Linked DNA regions of Homo sapiens. The protein of the gene in region 1 interacts with the protein of each later gene in a pairwise test. Each region holds a gene or a part of one and is shown on either strand. Other genes may lie near its edges. The genes, in order: SPIRE1 and BBS4.

Region 1 (3,376 bases):
CTACTCATGGCTGCTTATCACTTGTGACAACATGTTAATTTTTCCAGTGCGGTCCTTGTAGACTGTTTTTCTTTTTCTTTTTTTTTTTTTTTTGAGGCGGAGTCTTGCTCTGTCACCCAGGCTGGAGTACAGTGGCACAATCTCAGCTCACTGCAATCTCCACCTGCCGGGTTCAAGCGATTCTTGTGCCTTGCCTCCCCAGTAGCTGGGATTACAGGAGCACACCACCACGCCTGGCTAATTTCTGTATTTTTAGTAGAGATGGGGTTTCACTATGTTGGCCACCATGTACAAAAATACAAAAATTAGCTGGGCATGGTGGCGGGCACTTGTAATCCCAGGTACTTGGGAGGCTGAGGCACGAGAATCGCTTGAACTCCTGACCTCAGGTGATCCGTCTGCCTCAGCCTCCCAAAGTGCTGGGATTACAGGCGTGAACCACCATGCCCGGCCTAGACTGTATTTCTTCAAAGATCACAGGCTGCTTATAAAAGTACCCTGCCTTCCCAATTGAGGTGATTTCTGACAGCTAATTACCAAAAGACATCACCGTCTTACGATAGCAACTCAACACAGAAAGTCTGATGGAAAGCCATTTTATTTTTCTCTAAATTTTAAAATAGAAGACTTTAATGGAAAACATTTAGTACCATCATGTCACCCTGAATGCCAGCAATACCTCGACTTTTACACACGCAGGAAGCCTAGTAAAAGCCCCGTCAGTAGTACACATTTCTCTATGGTCCTTCAACAGTTTTGCATATACAAAATTTTCTGCTATTTTGCTTTAGCAAACAGCAATAAACTTTTGTGTTTCCTATATGACACCTAATATCCAGTCCTACAGTAATATAGTTAGAAAAATAAAAGGCTTAAAAATTTCATAGTACGAGTTCATGGTGCTAATAACAGAATCTCTTTAAACATAAGATCATTTTAAGCCTCTTACATAACCACCTTCTGGTTTCATTTGAAATCCTTAAGAATTAAAATCTAGTAAGATTGTTAAATCAACGTACGTCAATCATTCATTTTCACTTGCCTTGGGAGAGTTAATTCCCACTGTCCACTGAATGAATGCCTTTCAAATATTAATAAATATATTACAGTATTTACAAGCATTCTTATACACTCCGACACTGACAGGGAGTTAAGCCATGGAGAGGGAAGCACAGGTTTCCCAATAGTGTGACTTCATGACGTATGGGACAAAAGGAACCGGTGCTCAGGCCTGGAGGGAGCTGAGATGAGAGCAGGGATGATGGTTCAGATACGCACACATGCTCTAAGACACATCAGACTCTAGCTGAGACCAGCCAGACATTTCTTTTGTTGTTGGATTAGAAGTAAAACTGAACAAGAAACCAGGACACGGAAGGAAGAACTGGAAGCTATGCCTAAAGTCAGACCAGGCTAAGGATTTTAAAACCAAGCTCCACAAGCTCTTAGTGAATTACCCTGTGGAAACTATGTAGCTGACGTGAAGTGTGGAGGGGGGTGGTAGAAAGGGGGGTTAAATGTAAGACTTTGTTTTGGCAACAAAAAATGATAGTAATTTGATTTCTACAACTTTAACTGTGCCATGTGCCCTTTCTTACCCCACTTTCTGCAGATTGTTTCATATGAACGTACCCTCCACGTGACCTCTTTAATGCACTTGGCAAACTCCGTTAATGCTGTTGAAGAATGTATGTTCTGTGCTGTGGTAAGAGGTGATCGTAATGCCCAAATCATCCAATACACTATCATAAAGTGAAGTGAAAGACATGTACTAGATGTTTGCTTTGTGAATGTGAATGAAAGTCTTATTTTGGGGGTGTAGTTTCTTATGTTTTAATAAAAACAGTAGTCATTATTTTAAAAAGCACATTCTCCTAGGTGCATATTTATATACATATACAAATACCATTTCCTTCCCCCTTGTGCCCTTCTGGGTAGTCATTTTAAAAACTCAAGCCTGGGGTCATCAAAAGGGGTAGATTTATACTCCCACCTAACTGTCTGGAGTATAGAGTTCAGATAGTCTCTTAGGAAGTTTTATAAATGAGATTCACCCAGTACAATTCTGAAAGCTCTTAAACAGGAGTCTTTAAAATAATGTAAACACTTAAGTAATCAATAAGGGTTCTCTGGTGGCCCACTTTTACATGCAAATACAGACCAACTGTTAACATGCATTATTTTAGTCAACTGGTAAAGTTTATTTCATAAGTATAAGTAATTTTAAGCCTTTTACTAAACTGTAAATTTCAATCCATTAAAAACTACTACCGGAGCAGTTTTGAGGTATTACTGTTAATTTAGTATAGAAATGTTACTGTATTTTGATGTGGTATGAAATGCAGCCGCCATGCCTTTCATGAAACGGTGCTATCGTGGTGCTGACTACAGACATGTCCTATGGCTTTCAGGAAATTATTGTGCATGTGCATTAACAGATTTTCCAAACATTAATGACAATTTGATTGGTTAGTCATTTGTAAGCATACCAAAATAATACAGTATAGCCCACGTATGAGCCAAACACACTGAGACATTTGAGGCATACAATGCTACCCTCCAGTCTACTTTCGTCAGAAACCAAACCTACTCACTCAAATCATTTACAAGGAAAACTAGTGCAGAAAGCACCCCAAAAATGTTGCCTGTCAGCAGGTTAATTTTCTTCTAACTTTAAAAGAAGTAGATATTTTTTCTTTTAAAATTCATTTATAAAAATAAATTTTAGTTTGAGACCCTAGGTACCAAATTGTGGCTTAATTTACTCAAGATGGATGTACTACAAAGTTATGAAAAATGTAGCTGAAAACCCATGAGCTCCAGCTCATTTCTGCAGCGTGGCCAACAGCTGCCACTGTACACTGTCACAACCCTTCTCATAGGTAACCAAAATACGCTCAACGTCTTGACAAACTTTTAGCCTTCCTTTGTCCTGAAACTCCCACACAACTTTAATTCTTAGACCTCCATTATAAAACTATTAGTAACCATAATACATTCAAGATAGAGAATGAAGACCTGTCATCCACTCAGGAGACACTGAACCAGGGCACTGGGACAACACGGCCACTCAGGGGAAATAGTCACCCTTGTGGGTGTACAGCTCTTCAGATGTTTTGCACTAGAATGCAGGCAAAAAGTCCCTTATGTAATTTTTATCTCCAAGCAACAACATTTAAAAATCAGTTGAAGAGTGTCAGCAGGTGCTTCTAGGTTCTGTGCTGTGAGCCCCCAGGTCGTGGAGTGTAGGGCTCTGGATCTCTCTGTACACGGGATAGAAACACAGTCACGTGGAAATGCCAATATGACTTACTGCTTAGGGCTGTGCTGACATCGGCATCTCTGTTAGACTGATTCTCGTAGGAGAAGCTTTTTT
Region 2 (3,828 bases), on another chromosome or scaffold:
TTAGAAATTAGCCAGGCATAGTGGCAGGTGCCCTTAGTCCTAGCTACTCAGAAGGCTGAGGTGGGAGGATCTCTTAAGCCCAGGAAGCGGAGTTGCAGCAAGCCATGATTGGACCACTGCACTCCAGCCTGAGGAACAGGCTCAAAACAAACAAACAGCCAGGTGTGGTGGCTCACACCTCTAATCCCAGCACTTCGGTAGGCTGAGGCAGGCCGATTGCTTGAGTTCAGGAGTTTAAGACCAGCCTGGGTAACATGACGAAACCCCGCCTCTACAGAATATACAAAAATTAGCCAAGTGTGGCCTGCGCCTGTGGTCTCAGCTACTCGGGAGGCTGAGGTGGAAGGATCACTTGAGCCCAGGAGGCAGAGGTTGCAGTGAGCCAAGATCACGCCACTGCACTCCAGCCTGGGTGACAGAGCAAGACTCTGTCTCAAAAAAAAAAAAAAAAAAAAAAAAAAAAATTGCAATGTAAATTATCACATTAAGACATAATTTCATATCCACCATGACTGGTGGCAGAAGCATAAATTGTTACAACCACCATATAGTTTCCTGTAAGTAATAAAGTTACTCCATTACCTAGCAATCTATTTCTAGGTATACCTTAGAGAAACTCTTAGATATTGCATCAGAAGACCTACATAATAATGCTCAGGGCTAGGACTAAAGTGAGGCATGTGAAGAACCTAGGGTATAAACCTTAAGAAGGTACTTACTCTTACTCCATAAAATGTGAACCCTAAGCACCTCACTTACCTTTCCTTAGTCTTGGCCATATTTATAGCAGCTTTTTTTTTTTTTTTTTTTGAGACGAAGTCTCGCTCTGCCAAGCTGAAGTGCAGTGGCACAATCTCGGCTCACTGCAACCTCCGCCTCCTGGGTTCAAGTGATTCTCCCGCCTCAGCCTCCCGAGTAGCAGGGACTACAGGCGCGCAGCACCGCATCCTGCTAATTTTTGTATTTTTAGTAGAGACGGAGTTGCACCATGTTGGCCAGGATGATCTCGATCTCTTGACCTCATGATCCGCAGCCTCGGCCTCCCAAAGTGCTAGGATTACAGGCGTAAGCCACTGCACCCAGCAGCAGCATTGTTTTTAATAACTAAAAACCAGAAATAATCCCGATCTCCATCTAGTGGAATGGATAAGTTAATTGACATACTTTACTACAATAAGATACTATACAGTGTTGAAATAATGAATAAACTGAAGGTTAATAACAAATTTTAAAAACTAATATATTAAGGATATATATAAACATATATGGTAAAACTATAAAAAGTACAAAATATTAATATAAAATTGAAGAAACACTACATCTGATGTGGAGGAAGGAAAATGCAGTAGGAGAGAGGCATTTAGGAGGTTTCAAAGTTATTAATAACCCATTTCCTAACCTGGGCAGTAGGAACACAAGTTTCCATTATATTATCCTTTAAAGCACACATACGACATTTTAAGCACTCTTTTACAGGTAGGATATATTTCACAACAACAAAAATTAATCCTCAAAATAAAAGAGAATACTTATGTGAGGCAGGCCAATTGCTTGAGTTCAGGAGTTTAAGACCAGCCTGGGCAACATGGCAAAACCCCGCCTCTACAAAATATACAAAAATTAGCCAAGCGTGGCCTGCACCTGTGGTCCCAGCTACTCGGGAGGTTGAGGTGGAAGGATCACTTGAGCCCAAATGAGGGGCTCATTTGGTTAATGATCTTGATTTAAAAATTCACAAAAATTTATAAAGACATTTCACCAAAGAGATACGGGTGGAAAATAAACATATAAAAAATCTTCAATATCATTATTCATGAAGGAAATACAAATTAAAACCACCATACACCATCACTACCCATCCACTACAACAGCTAAATAAAAACAAACTGACAAACCAAGTGTTGACAGGGATGTGGAAAAATCACAACCCTCATGCATTGCTCATGGAAATGTTAACTCGTATATAGCCTGCAGAAGTTAGGCAGATTTGTTTCTGTTTTTTTAAACAAATACTTAAACAATATAACCCAGCAATTCCATTGACACAGGAACCCTTCTGGAGTGATGGACATGTTTTAAAAGCAGCCTCTGATGACAGCTGTGCAACTATATAAATTTACTAAAACTGATCAAACTTTGTACTTAAATTGAGTAAATTTTATGGTACGTGTATTATACCTCAACAAAACTGTTTTTTAAATGTTAACTCAATTTTTTAAAATCTAACTAGAATTTCTTAACTTTGGGGAATATACTACTAAAGAATGTTAAAGACTCAAAAAGCACCTTCAAAGGTCAGCAACCCTTCTTTCTGCACAAAGCAGAATTATTTTTTTGATGAGTCTTTTACTCAAGACTTTCCAGAACATTTTGAGATGGAAAGGATTCTATTAGCCCACTCAATCTCATTCATAGGATTTATATAGAACAAATTATTTTATTCTGTTATTTCTTCATTTTTATATAGTTTTATGATCATTTATTCATCCAACAAATATTCATGGAGCACCTGATACATAGGCACTATATCTGAGCCAGATCAACTAGTGTACTAATTTCTGTTTTCTGCTCTTATCAGTTTAATCCTTCAATTTACAGGATGACATATTTATCCAAATACATCAAATAATGGGAATCAGGGCATTATAAAAAAAATTTATAGGCTGGGTACAGTGGCTCGCCTGTAATCCCAGCACTTTGGGAGGCTGAGTCGGGCGGATCACAAGGTCAGGAGATTGAAACCATCCTGGCTAACACGGTGAAACCCCGTCTCTACTAAAAATACAAAAAATTAGCTGGGCGTGGTGGCAGGCGCCTGTAGTCCCAGCTACTCCGGAGGCTCAGGCTGGAGAATGGCGTGAACCCGGGAGGCGGAGGTTGCAGTGAGCCGAGATCGCGCCACTGCGCTCCAGCCTGGGCGACAGAGCAAGACTCCGTCTCAAAATAAATAAATAAATAAATAAATAAATAAATAAATAAATAAATAAAAAGATTTATAAGCACAAATCATGAAAGCCAGAGTTAGTTGCTCATTCATTTTTTGTTTTTTTCAGACAAAGTCTCACTCTGCCCCTGCTGGAGTCCAGTGGCATGATCATGGCTCACTGGAGCCTCAACTTCCCCCAGGCTCAGATGATCCTCCCCAGTAGCTGGGAAGACAGGCGCGTGCCACCACGTCTGGCTAATTTTTGTGTTTTTTGTAGAAATGGGGCTCCAACATGTTGCCCAGACTGGTCTCAAACCTCTGGACTCAAGTTATCCTCTCACCTCAGTTTCCACAAGTCCTGGCATTACAGGCATGAGCCACCAAGTACAGCCTGTTTGCTCATTTTTTAAGAATTCTAAACTATACTGAAAATACAAATATTAGTCCTCAGTTTTCCTTCTAAGGAACTGGTAGCAATCCGTAAGTAATTTTGGTAGCATACTAGAATTTCTGCGTCCCACACTGGGCTAGTTTTACTCAGTTTTGATGGGGTGTCTTCTGGCCTCAAGGCCTTGACTGTAGCCTTCTTAGATTTTTAGCTATACATTTCTTCAAAAATTCTGTGAGTTTTGAGTCTTTTCCTTTTCTCTCCTCCATATCCATATATCCTTATCTACGGATCTATATGTTTTCCTTTGTGTTATGAAATTAAGATCACATAATATACCCCACTTCACATCTACCTTTTATTTAAATGTACACCATGGAAGTCCCTCCAAGTCAATTAGTCGTAACATTCTCTTTTTTTTTTTTTCTTTCTGAGTTTAGGAATGGAGGTTTAATAGGCAGAAGAAAGAAAGGAGAACAGCTTTCTCTAGTGAGAGAGAGGGGCTTCTGAGAGG

What was found.
Region 2: the proteins of SPIRE1 (region 1) and BBS4 interact in a two-hybrid assay, tested with the Homo sapiens proteins (one large-scale study listed by BioGRID and IntAct).

What each region holds. Positions count from the first base shown.
Region 1 is NC_000018.10:12,445,932-12,449,307, forward strand, and holds the end of SPIRE1 (protein spire homolog 1), read right to left. Parts: 3' UTR 581-3,376; downstream 1-580.
Region 2 is NC_000015.10:72,688,941-72,692,768, reverse strand, and holds part of BBS4 (BBSome complex member BBS4), read right to left. Parts: intron 1-3,828.